Homo sapiens: one gene and its partners. The protein of the gene in region 3 purifies or fractionates together with the protein of the main gene of each other region. This does not show direct contact. Each region holds a gene or a part of one and is shown on either strand. Other genes may lie near its edges.

Evidence for each region.
Region 1: the proteins of TNPO1 (region 3) and IPO7 fractionate together in Homo sapiens (co-fractionation; 2 studies listed by BioGRID). This does not show direct contact.
Region 2: the proteins of TNPO1 (region 3) and IPO9 fractionate together in Homo sapiens (co-fractionation; 2 studies listed by BioGRID). This does not show direct contact.

Annotation. Positions count from the first base shown.
Region 1 is NC_000011.10:9,387,554-9,394,665, forward strand, and holds part of IPO7 (importin-7), read left to right. Parts: intron 1-7,112. UniProt on the Homo sapiens protein: Functions in nuclear protein import, either by acting as autonomous nuclear transport receptor or as an adapter-like protein in association with the importin-beta subunit KPNB1.
Region 2 is NC_000001.11:201,832,133-201,839,244, reverse strand, and holds part of IPO9 (importin-9), read right to left. Parts: intron 1-7,112. UniProt on the Homo sapiens protein: Nuclear transport receptor that mediates nuclear import of proteins, such as histones, proteasome and actin. Serves as receptor for nuclear localization signals (NLS) in cargo substrates.
Region 3 is NC_000005.10:72,889,554-72,896,665, reverse strand, and holds part of TNPO1 (transportin-1), read right to left. Parts: intron 6,881-7,112; coding exon 6,709-6,880; intron 4,857-6,708; coding exon 4,770-4,856; intron 3,528-4,769; coding exon 3,420-3,527; intron 3,290-3,419; coding exon 3,131-3,289; intron 3,051-3,130; coding exon 2,963-3,050; intron 209-2,962; coding exon 110-208; intron 1-109. UniProt on the Homo sapiens protein: Functions in nuclear protein import as nuclear transport receptor. Serves as receptor for nuclear localization signals (NLS) in cargo substrates.

The DNA of each region.
Region 1 (7,112 bases), on a different chromosome or scaffold from region 3:
AGGCACGGTGGCTCACGCCTGTAATCCCAGCATTTTGTGAGGCTGAGGCGGACTGATCACTTGAGGTTGGGAGTTTGAGACCAGCCTGACCAACATGGAGAAACCCCATCTCTACTAAGAATACAAAATTAGCTGGGCGCGGTGGCGCATGCTTGTAATCCCAGCTACTCAGGAGGCTGAGGCAGAAGAATCGCTTGAACCTGGGAGGCGGAGGTTGCGGTGAGCTGAGATCGTGCCACTGCACTCCAGCCTGGGCAACAGAGTGAGACTCCATCTCAAAAAAATTAATTAATTAATTAAATTTAAAACATTGGCTGGGCATGGTGGCTCATGCCTGGAATTCCAGCACTTTGGGAGTCCGAGGCGGGCGGATCACCTGAGGTTGGGAGTTCGAGACCAGCCTGACCAACATGGAGAAACCCCGTCTCTACTAAAAATACAAAATTAGCTGGGCGTGGTGGCGCATGCCTGTAATCCCAGCTACTAGGGAGGCTGAGGCAGGAGAATCGCTTGAACCCGGGAGGTGGAGGTTGCGGTGAGCCGAGATCGTACCATTGCACTCCAGCCTGAGCAACAAGAGCGAAACTGCGTCTCAAAAAATAAAAATAAAAATAAATAAATAAATAAATTTTTTTTTTTTTGAGACGGAGTCTTGCTCTTGTTGCCCAGGCTGGAGTGCAGTGGCGCAATATGAGCCCACCGCAACTTCTGCCTCCTGGGTTCAAGCAATTCTCCTGCCTCAGCCTCCCAAGTAGCTGGGATTACAGGCGTTTGCCACCACACCTGGCTAATTCTGTATTTTTAGCAGAGATGGGGTTTTACCATGTTGGCCAGGCTGGTCTCCAACTCCTGACCTTGTGATCCGCCCACCTCGGCCTCCCAAAGTGCTGGGATTACAGGAATGAGCCACCATGCCCAGCCTATTTATTTATATTTATTTTTTGAGACAGGGTCTTGCTCCATCACCCAGGCTGGAGTGCAGTGGCACCATCATGGCTCACTGCAGCCTCTCCCTCTCGGGCTCAAGCAACACTCCCACTTCAGCCTCCCAGGTAGCTGAGACTACGGGGATGTGCCACTATGCCCAATTAATTTTTGTATTTTTTGTAGAGACAAGGTTTCACCGTGTTGCCCAGGCTTATTTTTAATTTTTTCAGAGCTAAGGCCTTGCTATGTTACCCAGGCTGGAGTGCAGTGGGCTCCACTGCACTACATAGTACACTACAGCCTAGAACTCTTGGCCTCAAGCAGCGTCCTCCCATCTGAGCCTCCCAGGTGGCTGGGACTGCAGACACGTGCTACCACGCCTGGCCTAATTTTACTTAACTTTTCTTCTCCCCACTATAATTTTAAGTTTCTTGAGGTCATGAATTGTTATTTTTTGTTATTGTTATTCCTTGATTTCCCAGTAATAGGCTTTATGACTGACTTCCTGTTATAATATTAATAAATAACAGTATAGGCTTTAGCTCTTTTATTTATTTTTTAAAATTTATTATTATTATTATTAGTATTTTTGTGGCAGGTTCTCACTCGGTTGCCCAGGCTAGAGTGCGGTGGCATGATCTTGGCTCACTGTAGCCTCCAATCCCAGGTTCAAGCGATTCTCAGTCCTCAGCCTCTTGAGTAACTGAGACTACAGGTGCCACCACATCTGGCCAATTTTTGTATTTTTAGTAGAGACGGGGTTTCGCCACATTGCCCAGGCTGGTCTCGAACTCCTGACCTTAAGTGATCCACTCACCTTGGCCTCCCAAAGTGCTGAGATTACAGGCATGAGCCACCACACCAGCCGGTGTTTTTAAATATAATGCCAGGAAGATTTTTATTAAATACTCATTCCGAAGGATAATTCCCAGTCTGGTTCATGTAACAGCAAATGTCTGTGTGCTAGGCACTGAGCTAAGTAGTTAGATGCAGAGAAATTTATGATCACTGCCTTTCTAGAGCTCCATAATCACCACGTCACTGGCCCATACAATACATGTGGTCAGTACTATAATAAAGCTACATGTAAGTTTTGGATGACGAAACTATTAGATCTGATTTTGGCTAAGGTGGATATGATCTCCGCATCAATAGTCTTTCCCCTGTTATATTCGCAGTCAAGAAAAATGCTGTAAGTGGAATTAGAGGGTTTACCCAGGAGACATTTAAACTCTTAGTTCCTAAGCTCAATATGGTATATAATGGTTATATATGTATATACACCTTTTTTTTTTTTTGAGTGGAGTTTCGCTCTTTTTGCCCAGGCTAGAGTGCATTGGTGCCATCCGGCTCACTGCAACCTCCATCTCCCGGGTTCAGGCAATTCTGCCTCAGCCTCCCGAGTAGCTGGGATTAAAGGAATGCACCACCACACACGGCTAATTTTTGTGTTTTTAGTAGAGACGGGGTTTCACCATGTTGGCCAGCCTGGTCTTGAACTCCTCACTGCAGGTGATTGCCCACCTCAGCCTCCCAAAGTCTTGGGATTACAGGCGTGAGCCACTGCGCCTGGCCTAATTTTATATTTTTAGTAGAGACGGGGTTTCGCCATGTTGGCCAGGCTGGTCTCGAACTCCTGACCTCAGGTGATCCGTCCGTCTTGGCCTCCCAAAGTGCTGGGATTACAGGCCTGAGCCACCGTGCCCGGCCTAATGGTTTTATATGTACAGGCAGCAGTGCTACTTTCTCACTTGCTTTATATGAAAAAGTGATCTTGCTTTTGGTAAGTTTCTTGATATTTTGTGTGTGTGTGTGTTTTTTTTTTTTTAACTCACACTACCCTGGATCACTTTTGGGATTGTCACAAAAGGTTAACTATTACTGCTGTATGTGATATACCTTACTTATAAATGGTTCATTTGATTCCATTTTATTAAAAGTATTTAATGAAAATCTTAGGTCTGGAAAAGTGTAAAATAATGGCATATTTGTAAGATAATTTGGAATGTTTAGAAATTAAGCAAAATATTTTAGGAAGACCAGAGTAGCCTGTAGTTTAGATAACATTCCTTCACCAGGAATATTTTGAAGTACTGTTCTGAATTTGGGAGAAGGAAAGTCCCTGGATACTTCGGCTGTTAGATAGCAAGTTATTCAATGATATAGCTTGTTAAAGATCTGAAAGAGTTTGGGCGCAGTGGCTCACGCCTGTAATCCCAGCACTTTGGGAGGTAAAAGCAGGAAGAGGATCGCTCGTCCAGGAGTTTGAGACCAGCCTGGGCAACATACAAAAAAAATTTTTTTTTTTAGCCAGAGCCTCGCTCTGTCACCCAGGCTGGAATGCAGTGGCGCAGTCTTGGTTCACTGCAACCTCTGCCTTCTGGGTTCAAGCAATTCTCCTGCCTCAGCCTCCCGAGTAGCTGGGACTGCAGGCGCCCGCCACCACTCCTGGCTAATTTTTGTATTTTTGGTAGAGATGGGGTTTCACCTTGTTGGCCAGGCTGGTCTTGAACTCCTGACCTCAGGTGATCCACCCGCCTCTGCCTCCCAAAGTGTTGGGATTACAGGCATGAATCACAGCGCCCGGCTGCTAAATGATTTCTAATAAAAAAGTTTTTTTTTAAAGTTCCTAGTTGGAGGTCAGATGCGGTGGCTCACGCCTGTAATCCAGCACTTTGGGAGGCCGAGGTGGGCGGATCACAAGGTCGGGAGTTCGAGACAAGCCTGATCAACATAGTGAAACCCCGTCTCTACTGAAAATATGAAAAATTAGCCGGGTGTGGTGGTGGGTGCCTGTAATCCCAGCTACTTGGGAGACTGAGGCAGGAGAATCACTTGAACCCGGGAGGCGGAGGTGCAGTGAGCCAAGATCACGTCATTGCATTCCAGCCCGGGCAACAGTGCAAGACTCTGCCTCAAAAAAAGAAAAATAAAATAAAAGTTCTGGCCGGGCATGGTGGCTCACGCCTGTAATCCCAGCACTTTGGGAGGCTGAGGTGGGTGGATCATGAGGTCAGGAGATCGAGACCATCCTGGCTAACATGGTGAAACCCCATTTCTACTAAAAATACAGAAAATTAGCTGGGCATGGTGGTGGGTGCCTGTAGTTCCACCTACTCAGGAGGCTGAGGCAGAATGGCATGAACCTGGGAGGCAGAGCTTGCGGTGAGCAGAGATCACACCACTGCACTCCAGCCTGGGCGACAGCAAGACTCCATCTTAAAAAATAAAATAACATAAAACTTCCTAGTTGGAAAGCATAAAAATAATATTTTAAAATTATTTTTATTGTTATTATTTTTTGAGACAGGGTTTCACACTGTTACCCAGGCTGGAGTGCAGTAGTATGAACATGGCTCACGGCAGCCTTGACTCTCCTGGGATTAAGCTATCCTCCTGCCTTAGCCTCCCAACTAGCTGGGACTACAGGCGTGCACCACCACACCTGCCTAAGTTTTTTATTTTTTGTAGAGACGAGGTCTGTCTTTGTTGCCCAGCCTTGACTCCCAAGTGCTAGAATTACAGGTGCGAGTCACTGCACTTGGCTTATTACTGTTTTTTTAACAAAGGCAGAGGGACGCAGTGAAGAGCCTTAGCCTTGTCCTGAGTCTACGACTATAATGACTTAACCTCACTATGCCTTATATTTCATGTAGCCAAGGTAGATGTCATATTTGCCTTTGTCAAATTCTTTTTTTTTTTTTTTTTTTTTTTGAGACGGAGTTTCGCTCTTGTTGCCCAGACTGGAGTGCAATGGCACAATCTCGGCTCGCCACAACCTCCGCCTCCCGGATTCGGGCAATTCTCCTGCCTCAGCCTCTTGAGTAGCTGGGATTACAGGTATGCATTACCACGTCCGGCTAATTTTGTATTTTTAGTAGAGACGGGGTTTCTCCATGTTGGTAGGCTGGTCTCGAACTCCCGAGATCCGCCCACCTTGGTCTCCCTAAGTGCTGGGATTACAGGTGTGAGCCACTGTGCCCGGCTTGTCAAATGCTTTAGTAACAAGAAAGGTTAGAAGTTCCTTGGCTCTTGAAATTACCTGGTTGTATTTAATGTAAAAATCTGATAGCACGGGATTCTTCTACCTCCTGTGTTCCTTAAAAATGGTCTGAAGTATAGTAGCTAATTGAAAGTCTCTTTGGTTATATTTCAATGGAGAGAAATAATACAAAGTTACAGTTTTGGCCGGGTGCGGTGGCTCAGGCCTGTTATCCCAGCACTTTGGGAGGCCAAGGTGGGTGGATCATCTGAGGTCAGGCGTTTAAGACCAGCCTGGTCAACATGGCAAAACCCTGTCTCTACTAAAAATACAAAAATTAGCCGGGCATGGTGTTGCGTGCCTGTAATCCCAGCTACTCAGGAGGCTGAGGTATGAGAACCGCTTGAACCTGGGAGGCAGTGGCTGAAGTGAGCCAAGATTGCTCCACTGCACTCTAGCCTGGGCGACAGCAAGACTCTGTCTCAAAAAAAAAAAAAAAAAAAGTTACGGGTTTGAAGAGTATGTTTTAAAAGATACTGACATTAGTGATTACATTGGAAAATGTGGGTCCAGAGGGAAAACTGATTTTGAAGACATGAGTTACATACAGAGTGTCTAGTTTGAGGAGCTGGTAAACATCAAGTAGAAAAAGTCTAGCAGGCAATTGGAATGTGGAGCTGAAGTTTAGGAGAGAAAGCAGCAATGGAAAAGTGATATTCTTCTGCAGGCAGGTGATTACAGTAGTATGATCCAAAGGTATGGGATGGACTAGAGGGCTAAACTTTCAACCATGCCTATTTTGGGTACTTTGATAAACATCTGAAAAAGCAGACTGGAGATTTTGGGCATAAAAGTAAGAGAGAAGCCAAGAAAGATAATTTTAAGAAGGTTGCTTGTGGTTAGTGGTTAGTTTCCTTTTTCTTTTTCTTTTTTTCTTGAGACGGAGTCTCACTGTTGCCCAGGCTGGAGTGCAGTGGCACAGTGACAGCTCACTGCAACCTCCGTCTCCTGGGTTCAAGCAGTTCTCCTGCCTCAGCCTCCCTAGTAGCTGGGATAACAAGGCAACCACCACCACGTCCGGCTAATTTTTTTATATTTTTAGTAGAGAAGGAGTTTCATCACGTTGGCCAGGCTGGTCTCGAAGTCCTGACCTCAGGTGATCCACCCTCCTCGGCCTCCCAAAGTGTTGGGATTACAGGCGTGAGCCACCACACCAGGCCTAATTTCCTTTTTCTTACATAGATTTAATAAATTCTCTACCAAAGAGCATGAATTACTTTTGAAAATGAGTAAAAAATTTTTAGAAAAAAGAAAGGGGTGTTGATACTCCTAAATGAGAGAGGTTAAACAAACTGAAGACTTTCTGGGAAAATGCATTAAAGTATCAGTAACCTTGGAAAAGTAATTTCTAATTTTTTTCTTTTAATTTTTTTATTTTTTTGAGACAGTCTCTCTCTGTCTCCCAGCTGTAGTGCAGTGGTGCTATCTCGGCTCACTGCAACTTCTGCCTCCCAGGTTCAAGTGATTATCCTGCCTCAGCCTCCCAAGTAGCTGGGACTACAAGCGTGCGCCACCACGCCCAGCTAATTTTTGTATTTTTAGAGATGGGTTCCACCATGTTGGCCAGGATGGTCTCCATCTCTTGACTTCGTGATCCGCCCTCCTCGGCCTCCCAAAGTGCTGGGATTGCAGGCGTGAACCATCGCCCCCAGCCTTTTAATTTTTAAAATTATTATTAATTTTCCACGCAGTCAGAGGGGAAAGCAATTTCTGATTACAGTGTTAGTGAGTGGAATGCTAGTAAGGGGGCAGGGATAAGATTGTAAGTTAAAAGGGTGGCCATATTGGGAAATTCGTTGATGTGAGAGTGTGCGTTTTTCTTTTTCTATTTTTTAAAGTTGAGCTTATTTTGGGTGGCAGAGAAAGCAGCAGGGAAGCTTGGCTGTATAGTAGAATAGGGGCCTAGGTTTTTGAGGCCTGTTGCTACTACCTGTTGTACTAATAGTTTTTCATTCATGTTTTATAGTCATCATTCCTTGAATTACATTCTTCATTACATTCTTCACAGTGCTTCAAGAACTCATTTTCCTATAGCATAAATCTGATCATGTATAACCCTTCACAAAAAATTCATACTCTTTAAATTTTTTGGCCACAACCTACCAATTCATTTTTATCTTTCACTGTTCAAAGTCTTCTCTGA
Region 2 (7,112 bases), on a different chromosome or scaffold from region 3:
ATCTTGTCTCAAAAAGTTTCCTCTAGGCTGGGCGCAGTGGCTCACGCCTGTAATCCCAACACTTTGGGAGGACAAGGCAGGTGGATCACCTGAGGTTAGGAGTTCGAGACCAGCTTGGCCAACATGGTGAAACCCCATCTCTACTAAAAATACAAAAATTAGCCGGGCGTGGTGGCGGGCGCCTGTAGTCCCAGCTACTTGGGAGGCTGAGGCAGGAGAATCGCTTGAATCCAGGAGGCGGAGGTTGCAGTGAGCCAAGATCATGCCACTGCACTCCAGCCTGGGTGACACAGCAAGGCTCCATCTCAAAAAAAAAAAAAAAAGTTTCCTCTAATAGGTTCTTACACATTTCCTAAGCATTTACTTTTTTGTTGATACTGTAAATTGGTTTTGGTTTTTAAAAAACCATTACGTCCTCTAACCTTTTATGGTTTGTGTATGTGAAAGCTATTGATTTTTATATTTTATGTCCTGTTTTACTGAATTCTTAGATTCTTAATTCATTCTTATTATGCCTTTAAGCTGCAGTTTTTGATCCACTCCTATGGCACCTATTGTTTCACTCAGGAAAGTGGATTTTTTTTTTTGGCATGACCGCCACAGAAGAAGCCACATTCTTTCTGAAAGAGTTATTAAATGATTAAATCACAAGCAAACACTTGAAACTTGCACAATCCCCCTACAGATACTGCAATCCATTCTAATTCTTAGGATTAATTTGGTTAGTACAGACTCTGGTTAAATCTATAAAACCCATTTGTAGCAAGAGAAGAAACAACAGGTATCTACAACCCGAAGATATGGGAGTCAACTATCAGAACTGATTCTAAAACACAGATGAGTCAGATAATTCAGGAACATCTCTTGGATAGCAATGTTCCAGTTCAATGGAAAAAAGCACTCTAAAATGCACATGTGAAATCCATTTAAAGGAGAAAGACAACTAGTAAGGGCATCCACAATTCCTTTGAGTTCAGATACTTAGTGTGATAATGGATGATACTTAGACTTCATGGCTTCAAGTCTGCTTAGAATGTCACTGTCCACCCAGGATTGGCCTCCCTGGACATGGTGAACCAATTCTGGTGTGCCTTATGTAACTTCCTTCACAATAATCTACAAGCACATTCACAAATTATCTGGGACATAACAGCATTTCCTTTTTTTTTCTTTTGAGACAGAGTTGCACTCTTGTTGCCCAGACTGGAGTGCAATGGCGCAATCTCAGCTCACCGCAACCTCCACCTCCCGGGTTCAAGCGATCCTCCTGCCTCAGCCTCCCGAGTGGCTGGGATTACAGGCATGTGCCACCACGCCCAGCTAATTTTGTAGTTTGAGTAGAAATGTGGTTTCTCCATGTTGGTCAGGCTGGTCTCAAACTCCCAACCTCAAGTGATCCGCCCGCCTCAGCCTCCCAAAGTGCTGGGATTACAGGCATGAGCCCCCGTGCCTGGCCTAGTATTTTCTTTTAAGGCATGATTTAAATAATTTTTCCATAGGTCATTATGATTTGGACTTTTAATGTTCCTAGCAAGAGCATAATTTTTGGATCATTACTACAGGGACAAACTAAAACAAGATCAAAATGAAGAAATTCTTCAATATACAGTGTGAAAAGATACTGAGGAATGAGACTTTTTGAGAAGGGTTTGAAACTTAAGACTTTAAGCTTAAACAAATCTGAACAACTGTCCTTCCAATGAAAGCACTGATATTCATATAGCTGTAGGGTAATACTGAGGCTCACAGCTCACAAAAGGGAAAAAGAACCACACATTTTCCATCAGTTCACTCTGGCACTGATCACAGGAGTCATTAGAGCATGAAGACCAGGCAAACTTTACACATAGGTCCTATCACAGCTTAAGGGTCCTTTCTCATCAACCAGAGAATTCCAAGTCTTTTCTCTTCAGAGAAAAGCTTAGCATGAATATATTTTTTCCATATCCCTGCCAGAAGGATGCACTCCAGTGATGATCACAGTAGCTAGAAGCTCTTCACTCTAATACAGTAATAAGTTAATCATGTCTGGTAACCTATCAAAGATCATATACAAAATTCCACTAACCACCTTGCTTCACACATCACTGAGACTGGAAGGGATGGTGAGAATAAGAGATCATCAGAAGATTAAGACCAACGTAGGGGCCAAAAACCCAAGTTAGCCAAGGGATCTGTACCTACAACAAGTATTTTAAGATGGACTCCTTCTAAAAGCTAATTTCTTTCACGCATGAAAGAAGCAGCATTAAAGTTCAAGTAACATATATTTGCTCAAAAGCAGATATATAATGGCAAAGAAAATCTTCAAATAACATCATCATTGTTAACTAAAGACAAATTTTAAAATAAAATAGATGAACAGATTTCCTTCTCTACAGACCCCTACAGTTTCAAAAATTATGACCACATGTCCAACATGACCACATGTTTCAAAGCCTCAAAAATTCAAAGACAAAGAGCTTATTTGCATTAGGTTATAGGGGGATGAAAGAGGGAAAATACAAAATTCTTTTACTTAACCCAATTTATTCTGTCTAGACCACATACCTACTAGAAATACAAGGATATCACTCACCATTTAAGAGTGTCATACCCATAATACTTTAGTTTACTTAAAAGCTATATAAATAATTGTTTCCAAGGAGTATGATGTTGATGGTAAACTCCGTGCTATAAAACCGATGCAAAATTAGCTGGGTGTGGTGATGCACACCTGTAGTCCCAGCTACTAAGGAGGCTAACATGGAAGGATCACTTGAGCCCAGGAGTTTGAGGCTGCAGTGAGCTATGATCACACCACTGCACTCCAGCCTGGATGACAGAGCAAGACCTTGTCTCAATTAAAAAACAAACTAAGAAACAAACTAATGCAAAGAAGGAAAAGCCAGAAAATAATTCTAAAGCTCTTGGCCTTATTTTAAATCTGATCAACACATTTGCTCCTATCCATTGGTTTCTGTTACGTAGTAAAACCCTACTTACAGATTTTTCACTTAACAGAGATACAATATTTTTTGAAATACAACTAAGTATATTTGTTAAAAAAAAAGTACGTGTGTGTGTGTTGGGGGACTTCTGGTTTTACTGATTGGTGTCTGTTTTTTTTTTTTTTTTTTTTTTTTGAGATGGAGTCTTGCTCTGTCACCCAGGCTGGAGGGCTGGAGTGCAGTGGTGTGATCTTGGCTCACTGCAAGCTCTGCCTCCCGGGTTCAGGCCATTCTCCTACCTCAGCCTCCAGAATAGCTGGGACTACAGGCGCCCGCCACCACGCCTGGCTAATTTTTTTGTATTTTTAGTAGAGATGGGGTTTCACCATGTTAGCCAGGATGGTCTTGATCTCCTGACCTTGTGATCCGCCCTCCTCGGCCTCCCAAAGTGCTGGGATTACAGGAGTGAGCCACACTGTGCCCGGCCTGGTGTCTTTAACACAATGTCTTTAAAAATATGAGAAAGAATAGCCTAATAACTTACTCTGGGATGATGAAGGCAGGGAAAATATAAGAAACACAGACATAAATATCCGCTTTATTTTGCTTTGCTTGGAAACGACTGTTTAAGATTAAACTAACATTCAATCTATGAAGTTGAGCCAAAGGGCAACACTGCCAAGAGGGCTATATGAAGTTGTTTTCTAAAGCTATTTTTGTTAGGAAATTTAATTTCTCTAGTTCCCTTTCCCATGGTGAAATAAGGACAGTTCATTCTGTTAATCTGGGTTTTCACCCTGACTCTAGATTCTCCTTAATTATACCTTTATTCCTATCCAAAATGGCATCCTTTGACTTCCTAAGAAATCCTCTGCCCTCTTTCATTCTCTAGTCTCATTCTCTTTTAGTCTTTTGCTTCCCTCTCGTTATCCTTGCTCCCCTTTCTCTCTTATCACCCCATATGGCAAAAACATTATCTATCTAAAACTTGGTTTAGAAGGGAAAACCCAAAGGAGAGCATGGAGGATAAAGGATCACTTAAGAAATACATGCTATTGGTCTGAAGGGTCTCCTAGAGAGACAAGACTTGGCAGTACTTTGACAGTCAACTAATAAGAATTGTGAACAGGGATTGTTGGAGAAGGATGCGGTTTTGAGTAGACCCCCTGGACAAGCCCCCTATTTCTCATGGGAGTTGGTAAGCACCACAAAACCACAGCTGAAAGGAAAAAGAAAACTCCACCACTGGCCTTTTTCCGAGCGTGGCCGCCTTCCGCTCGGCTCAGTGCCCGCCACATGCCCAGGAGTGCGTCTGGATCCTTGAGGGGCGCCCTTCGCAGGTGGACAGTGCTTACGCTATACTGCAAAAGAGCCAGAAAAGTGCCCATGAGAACCAGAAAGCAAACTTCCAGCCAGCAGGATCATCTCTCTAGGCATCTAAGATGGGGAAATCAATACAGGTATCTCGGCAGCATCTGAATGCCAGGAAAGGTGAGGGAGAGATAATTTCCCCCCTCCCCTGTTCAACATAATGGTGGTAGAAGGGAAGAAAAATGTATTCTCTGTGACTTATCTACTGGGAACTAGACAAGGCCAAATGATAGGGGAAATGTCATCATTTGTAATAGGCAAAAAAGAAATAAGCAAAGAAGAAAATGTCCTAGGGTCTAAATCTAGTTATGTAAGAAAGTCTGTGCATGCTGGCACGAAGAATTAAAGCTTCTGAATGAAAGCAACCCATTCCACCACTTGGATAATGCCATTCTTAGAGGAAAAGTAGAGAAAGAAGTAGAAAAAGAGGGAAAGAACTTCATTTTAAGATATAAAAAAATAAAGCACGAATACACCAAAAATAAAAGGCTGACATTCTCAAAAGATGGTAATTCTCATGATCTCACCGTAAGTCAGACAAAAACAAAAGAAAAAGAGTTGATGAAGCTGAGTACAGAATATGAGACTTTGACGTAAGAGATCTTCGGTGGTTCATAACCTCTCCAGTCTTTTTAACTACTATGTTTGTAAAGTGCTTAATATGAACCTGCCTATTAAACAAAACAGAATTAGAAAGCATGCTTTAGACTCTTAGCAGTGCAACAAAAAAAAAAAAGAAAAGAAAAGTTTTTTTACTCTAACGAATAAAAAAACTTAAAAAAAATTTTTTTTACCCTATTTAGGTAGAAGTAAATTTCCTACAAACCTGATCAAACTCAAAATCTCAATCCTCCTAAGAAAAATGAAAGGGGCCAGGTGTGGTTGCTCATGCCTATAATCTCAGCACTTTAGGAGGATCACTTGAGGGCAGGAGTTCAAGGCCAGCCTGGTCAACACAGCAAGACCCCATCTCCAGAAAAAAACTAAAAAAATCAGCCAAGTATGGGCATGTGCTTGTAGTCACAGCCACTTGGGAGGCTGAGGTTGGGAGGACTGCGTAAGCCCAGGAGTTAGAAGCTGCAGTAAGCTATGATCACACCACTGCACTCTAGCCTGGGTGACAGAGCAAAACTCTGTATCTTAAAAAAAAGAAAGAAAGAAAAATGAAAGGTTAACAATTATCTGCAGAATACTGTACACCATAATAACTTCCAAACTTTCAAGCAATGTTCTTCTCAATTCAGGATGGGAGTGCTATCTGATGAAGGTGGTTACTGGCATCATCTCCTTATCTAATTAGCCCTGTTAAATAGACTTTAAATATTCAGAGAGGTTTGCTGGGTTTCTTCCAGATTCCAAGTGACTAGCAAAAATAGCAAGCACAGGGGCTCAAGAAAATCATTCCAGCCAGGCGCAGTGGCTCACGCCTGTAATCCTAGCACTTTGGGAGGGCAAGGTGGGTGGATCACCTGAGGTCAGGAGTTCGAGACCAGCCTGGCTAACATGGTGAAACTCCATCTCTACTAAAAATACAAAAATTAGCCTGGCGTGTTGGTACGCGCCTGTAATCCCAGCTACTTGGGAGGCCTAGGCATGAGAATCACTTGAATCTAGGAGGCGGATGTTGCAGTGAGCCGAGATCATGCCAATGCACTCCAGCCTGGGTGACAGAGCGAGACTCTGTCTCAAAAAATAAAATTAAAAAAAAAAAAAAAATCATTCCAGGACACCAGGCTGATGAAGTAACCTATCTTATCCTTTTCAGATTGACACGCTACATGAATCAAATGGATCTCTCACATACACACACTTCCTTGGCTTAAGAGAACAGGTGCCCATTCTGGAAAATGTGATAATTAATTATAGGCAATTTATTTATTTATCAGAAAATATCAGCTGGTACACTAAATGATCAGGACTACTCTAGGCTCCAGCAATCTTTATTTTCTAAGATAACTGCTTCTTAAAATCTCATCTATAGTACAATTTGGTCACAGCATGTCAACTTCTCTTGCCTGTCCTTTTAACAGGGAGTTGACAATTGACCTGTGTCCTTTCCCCATAAATTAGATATTCTTCCATTTAATCTTCAAGACAAGGGATCATCACCTGGTAGCCAAGGAAGGTAACAAATGTTTTTGGCAAAGGGAACGGACCAGTTAATCTTAAAGACCATGTGGGATCAGTCTCCTATGTGATGGACTAATAAACAGCTCACAAAGACAGTGTGGTTATTTGAGAGGACAGAGGGAGGACTAGATCTGGTTGTCACCTGATCCTGGGCCCCATGGAACCAAAAAATGATCAAAAGATTACCAGAACACAAATAATAATAGACACCAAATCCCAGATTTCTCATTAACTTCAAGTTTTAAGAGTGTTTCCGGCCTGGCCGGTTGGCTCATGCCTGTAATCTCAGCATTTTGGGAGGCTGAGGTGGGCAGACTGCTTGAGCTCAGGAGTTCAAGATCAGCCTGGGCAACATGGCTAAACTCCGCCTCTGCTAAAAATACAAAAATTAGCCAGGCATGGTGGTGCATGCCTGTAATCCCAACTACTTGGGAGGCTGAGGCACGAGAATTGCTTGAACCTGGGAGGTGGAGGTTGCAGTGAGCTGAGATCATGCCACTGCACTCCAGCCTGGGCCCTGGACCACAGAGTGAGACTCGGTCTCAAAAAAAAAAAAAGTGTTTCCTAGAATCAGAAAACAAGGTTCCTTCTACCAGGGTAAAACTAAAATGTGGGCTGGGTGCAGTGGCTCACGGCTGTAATCCCAGCACTTTGGGAGGCCGAGGCGGGTGGATCACCTGA
Region 3 (7,112 bases):
ACTCCTGACCTCAGGTGATCTGCCCGCCTCAGCCTCCCGAAGTGCTGGGATTACAGGCGTGAGCCACCGCGCCAGGCCTTATGCTTTTAAATAGGGAAAAACATCTTACCCATTTGAATGGAGATTTCTCCAATTGCCCATGTGGCATTGTTGCAGACTGAAATGAATTCTGGATTTAGGTTGGTTCCCAATATTGGCATGAAATCAGCTAGAAAAAAAATTTAAACTATGTAGTAAACTTTTCAATAGCAGTATATTGTACTTTAAAGGAAATCTACTAGGTGGAAACAGAAATCTAAGCAAGAAATAACAAGTTTCACCATTAAAAAAATTACTGCAACATCAATTTTAAAATTGGTGGAAATAAACTAGGCAACTGTATTTAAAAATATTTTTTAAAGGAGTTGGTAATGTTTATCTTAAGAAACTGAAGAAAACAGTATCTGGCCAATGAACTTTCAAATAATGTGGAACAGGAAATACAAGTTTGGGTATATTTTACATACCACTAAAAAGAGTTGGTCAGAGTAATCTCTTGTAATTAGACTAAAAAAAAAAAATCAATGATTTTGGCTTTTAAAGCAATTTTCACTCTTGTGCTCTGATTGTGGTCTCTGAATAACATTTTCCACTAAAAAAAAATGGACTCTCAGAAAACGTCACATTACAGGCAAAGGCAGGAAATGTGCAAAATAAGTGGACTATCTTGTCATAATGAAAGGACTCGGGAGCCAACTTAAGTTCTCACTGCAAGCAGTACAACAGCTTGAACATCATGAAGTCACACTAGCACTAAAAACAATCAAACAAAAACAAAACTCTGAAACATCAAAGATACCTTTGGAGGATGATAGGAATCAATTCATTATTTTGAAAATTGGTAAATAAAAAAAAGAATCAAGTATTTATCTTGCCTCTGCTATATGATTTTACCTCAGGATAGTAATTTATTGATATGGGAAATGTCTCCCTATATAAGTATCTTCATTATTAAATGAAGAATTAGAATATCATAATTTTTTAAACTCCTAATAAATCAGGAGATGTAAGCCAGGGTTTCTTGATCTCAGCAATATTGACAGTTTGGGCCAGATCATTTTTTTGTTGGGGGGAAGGGGAGCTGTCTCCTGTATTATAAGATGTTTAGCAACATCCTTTGCTTCTACCCACTAGACATCAATGGCACCTCTCCAGCATCAAACAAAATGTCTCCAGACACTGGCAAATGTTCCCCGAATGGCAAAATTGCCCCTAGTTGAGAACCACTAATTGAGACAATCATCAAGATTGGTAACATTAAAAAAAAAAAAAGGAGGGACAACTAGACACTATGTACACTAAGTACACAATACCATCTATAAAGTCTTAAAAACAAAACAACGTAAATCTCATTAAACCTCAGTCTCTGTATCCAAACAATTTACAGTAAATACAACGGACAGAGGAACATGTTAAAGACAACAAAGATGCAATCAGTAAAATCCACAGTAAAGGAAACTCTTTAGAATAAAAAACATGGTTTCTTTAACAAAAAACAATTGTAAGAAGAGATAGTATAGTATGTACTAAAATATTAAGACTTCAAATGCTGTGTTTGAGATTTGCTCCAAAATATCTGAGATCTATGTGTCTCACCACTGACAACAGTATATAGGAAACAGGACTGGACAGTTGAAGCTGGGTGATAGGAGGTTTGTTACATTTTTTCTACTTTTGTACGTCTTAAACACTTTATAATAAAAAAATTAAATCCTTTCATATAAGTTTCAACTAAAAAACTAAATTAGGTGGTAAATATGAGAATGATAAGCTTCCCATAAGAATTCATTACACTGTTAGGTTTAAACTTGATGGTTCTTAATATATCATAATTAATGTTAATTATGTTAGTTTTTTGAGAAATGGTTATCCAAAAGCACAATTATATCAGATGACAAAACATTCAATTAATATTTTAAATTAAGGTTTAAATGAAGTATTAAAATAATTTTTTTTGAGACGGAGTCTTGCTCTGTTGCCCAGGCTGGAGTGTAGTGGTACAGTATCAGCTCACTGCAGACTCTGCCTCCCGGGTTCAAGCGATTTTCCTGCCTCAGTTTCCCAAGTAGCTAGAACTACAGGCACAAGCCACCACGCCTGGCTAAGTTTTTGTATTTTTAGTAGAAGCGGGGTTTCACCGTGTTAGCCAGGATGGTCTTGATCTCCTGACTTCGTGACCTGCCCGCCTTGGCCTTCCAAAGTGCTGGCATTACAGGTCTGAGCCGCCGTGCCCGGCTGTATTAAAATAATTGTTACCCAACATGCTGAGATGCAGAAAAGGGGGAAAAAAATCCCATAACTCATTTATAACCCATAGGTTTAAGAACAATTCCGGGTACAACATTCAAGGAATTTCTTATCATTGTCACAGAAGGCCAAGACAAATGCTATGCTAGTCTCGAATCTCGCACTCCTGACCTCAAGTGATCTGCCTGCCTTGGCTTCCCAAAGTGCTGGCATTACAGGTGTGAGCCCCCAGGCCCAGTCTCAGTTAAAGTGACATTTGTTGGAAGTTTTCTGCAATATCTGAAAAAGTATGCTGGTTTGCTAGAGAAGAAAACCTGATTATTACTATTTCTGTGTACCTCTACCAAAAAGGTGGCTACTCAAAAAAGAATCTATTAACTAGTCCATGGTACCAAGGCTTCCCTGGTGGGCATGTCCTTTACTCTAAAGTATATTACTAAGCTTTCCTCCAGTCACAGGAGTACCTAAAAAGCTGAGATGATGGCAAGCTCAAGGAAATATTAGGGGTTCCTGCCATCTTGCCTGTTTCAATCACAGCAAGTTTACTTTAACCAATAAAGTGTACATTTATAAATGTTGGGATTCCATGCAATTTCAGTTTAATAATAAAAAAACAAAGCTGATGTAAATGTTAACTTTAAAAAACCATATTCATAGCAGTAGAAAATATTCATACCTATACAAGGCTTAACATGCTGAAAGCAAGCTTTTGTGAGGTCACCTAACAGGGCAAAAGAACTCTGTCGAACTTCTGGCATTTTATCCTACAAGAAATAAGAAGAAATTAACCCCAATGTGACACAGAGAAACAGGCTTCAATTCATTTTCACCTTTCAAGTCTCACCTGCATGCACTGATACATTAGTGTCAGGATGTTACTTCGGGCTACCAGCTGTTCAATGTTGCCTCCAAGTCCTTCAGCCAGGCCACTCAGTAAATCAAGAGCCACTATCATAAAATCTTTATCTGGAGCTTCATATTGATCTGGTTGAGCATTGTTTAGCTGAAATTAGACACAATGTTTTTTGTAAGTTTGGTTTTAATTAACTACTTAAAAAGTCTGTATACATTATACCTATCTTTAGAAAAATGTCCACCATGTCAAGAAGAGGAAGACATTTTAAAAAAATTACCATGGCTTGTGCAAGAGTCTTCTGTACTAGGTTTACACAACGCTGATACACAGGTTCACAGTACGGAAGGAATCCAGACTGCAGTGCTGTGGCAACTGAAGATAGGCACTAGGAAGAATAAAGTACACATGCTAAACTTTCTGGGTATACTGAAGATTATGATGAATGCTTGAAACTGCGCTCAACAGGATCCTGATCATTTATGAGCTTGCTCTACTAGTTTCTACAGTAGCAGGTTCCCCTCCCCCCACCCCAACCCTCTCTTTTGGAAGCCATTCATTGTTGTTAGTTTGCCAGCCAATCAGGTCAGGTTTACTCAGAGGAAGCGTTTCTACAAGAAACATTATCTTTAAAGGACAGATTGAGTATTATGTGTTCATATTTTTCCCTCAAATTGAAGAGATTCATTTCATGCTCCCATCCTGGTCAATGTTGTGAATGGACTTTACTGGGCACATTCTGAGATCCTGCCGGAAAGTAATATATATACAGTTGGCCCTCTGTATCTATGGATTCAACCAATCTTGAATCAAAAGTATTTAGAAAAACAATTAAAATGATTTAAAGTATATTGGGAGGAGGTGCATAGGCCATATGCAAATACCACATCATTTTATATAAGGGACTTGAGCATCGCTGGATTTCTGTATCCAAGGGGAGTCCTGGAAACAATCCCCTGCAGATACTGAGGGACGACTGCATACAAAAAATGAACCATAATGATTCTTCTTGTTTTGCTGGGCCCAGAATTGCTCTTGGTCATAGAAAATTTAACTTCTTTGGCTAAGAACAATCCACGGTAGAAGATGGTGAACCTTGAAATAACAGGGAGCAAGAATGAAAAGGCCTGAACTGGTTCTATCAATGTCAATTCAACTAAGTTTAAGTGACTACATTTCACAGTGTGTTCAGTTACGAGAACATCATATAAAAGTTTGCAATGAAAGGGGTGTTAAAAAAAAAAGTAGTTAAGTACACATGGAAACATTTTCAAATTTGAAAATAAGTACCTCCTTACTGGCACCAAATCCCACTACTCAACATATATGTATGAGTGAAAAGATATATATATATATCCCGGTATATATATCCTCCCAGTATGTTATCTACTCTATACTATATAGAGTAGTATGCTATCTACTCTATATAGAGAGTAGATAACATAAGAGAACTTAAAACTCTAATTTATTATCAATTAAGTAAAGCAGGTTAGAGAACAGTATGTATCATATAATTTCCTCCGTCTACTTCAGAATATAAATTTATTAACACTTTTCTTATCATATATACCCATTTTGGATTTGAACATGTGTTCTTGGCAACAGATTAAATATTACTAGCCCTGCATACCTCAAGTAAAGGGAAGAGATCTTTATCTTCATCCTTTAACATGTTCCATTTCTGGATCAGTGGAGGCATTAGCATCTGAATATATTCCTATTTACAATGATGAAAAACATATAAAATTCCACTATCACATGTCAACAAGACCATTTTGAGTCTTTGAAAATTAAAATCCATTTTGAGCAATTGTGTAAAATCATTACAAAAGGCATTTTAAGAGTCATTCTTCACTCTGCACAGTCCCTTTTAAAGTTTTCCTTTCTGTTGCCTACCTTTATACTTACATGACCGTGTTCTAGTTTTAGATCTAGAACTAGTGATCTACTGATCTTTTATCCTTGTTGAAAAAAAGAGTCTATCAATAAACACACAGCTAATCAAAATCTATTACTTAAAAAAGTCACAATCAAGGAAGATCTAAGTTTTTCTCTTTTTTTTGAGACGGAGTCTTGCTCTGTCGTCCAGGCTAGAGTGCAGCGGCGTGATCTCAGCTCACTGCAAGCTCCGCCTCCCAGGTCCACGCCATTCTCCTGCCTCAGCCTCCCGAGTAGCTGGGACTACAGGCACCCCCCACCACACCCGGCTAATTTTTTGTAGTTTTAAAGAGACAGGGTTTCACCGTGTTAGCCAGGATGGTGTCGATCTCCTGACCTTTTGATCTGCCCACCTCAGCCTCCCAAAGTGCTGGGATTACAGGTGTGAGCCACTGTGCCCAGACCTAAGTTTTTCTCTTTAAGTTACAGAATATTTTTAGTTCTGGGGCTGGGCATGGTGGCTCACACCTGTAATTCCAGCACTTTGAGAGGCTGAGGCAGGCAGATCACTTGAACCCAGGAGTTTGGGCCAGCCTGGGCAACATGGCAAAACTATCTCTACAAAAAGTTGGCCAGGAATGGTGGTACACGCCTGTGGTCTCAGCTACAGGGGAGGCTGAAATGGGAGGATCGCTTGAGCCCGGGAGGTGGAGGTTGCAATGAGCTGTGATCACACCACTGCACTCTAGCCTAGGTGACAGAGTGAGACCTTGTCACACACAAAAAAATTCCTTTTAGTCATGGAACTGTAACGTGTAATATGGCTGTTACTATATAGTACATTTTTAAATCAACAGGTAAACTTACACAGATGCTTTTGTAGAAAAACAAACTTAAAATCATTTAAGTGTCAAACTAAAGAATGATCCATAAAACGACTAAACATAGTGATCATGTAAACAGGGGCACAGACTCTAAAGACATTCAGAAAACAAACCCCCACAAAAGCCAAACCAAACAACCAACAGCAAAGCAAACCTATAAACTGCCCTGTACCAAATCTTAAGTGTAACTTAAAAATAAAACAATTTCTTAAGACTTTGGATATAGCAATCATATAGAAGTCTATTCAGCAGGGTATGTGGAGCTATATTAAAATTCTACTATCACTTAAATCCTCATTAGACAAATCCATCCTCCTCTTCTACTAACACTACTGGAAACAAGGCACTTTTGCATTACTATTTAGCATTTTTAAACCTACTACCCCAATTTCTATTTGTTTTATACAGTATACTCCCCGTACCTGCTGAAAAAACAAAGATGTCTAGATATGGTACTCTAAAGCTACAGTGTTTATGAAGTGGTAGATTCAAAAACATTAGGAATTAAGTAAAAGCAGATATCCAGATTATAAAAACTTTTTTATCCCTTTGCTTTAGTCATTCTAAAAAGTATCAGAGCATTCATGTGAAATGCTGCTGTAGTTTCCACACCAAGTATGTATTTACTTTAAGAATACCACATGAAAGGGGATATACTTGCTGCCTTTGTAAGATCTATACTCTTAAAGTAGCTAACGCTAACTATTCACATCTCCCAAAACATCTTAATTTCCAAATATATGCTAATCTATTAATTGTAACTATGCTACACATTATTTTCCCTAATAGTTCTTAACAGATACTTACTGGTTTGTTTAAATGATGTCCTACTGAATCTGCTAATGTTCCTATGGCATCGTAAAGAATGAGCAGGTTCTTATGCTGGTATTTACTAAATGCAAAGACCAGGGTATCAAGTATATAAGCAAGGTAAGGAACAAGTTCTGTACAAGCCTCCTCTTCTAGGGTAGCAAAGGCACTGTTTAAAAAAAAAAAAAAAGAATACTTATTGACTGTAAGATATATCTAACTCTTAATTGCTAAAATGTTTATGTTCTGTTTTACCCAATCAGGAATTTCCTAAAATGGTCTAAGCCATCTGTTAATGAAAGCCCTGGTCATCAGCACTGTGAATTATTTACCGATTTCTTCCATAGCACTTGCCATAAATGATAATTATGTTGCTGCTTTGTATTTCCTACTAACCTGTA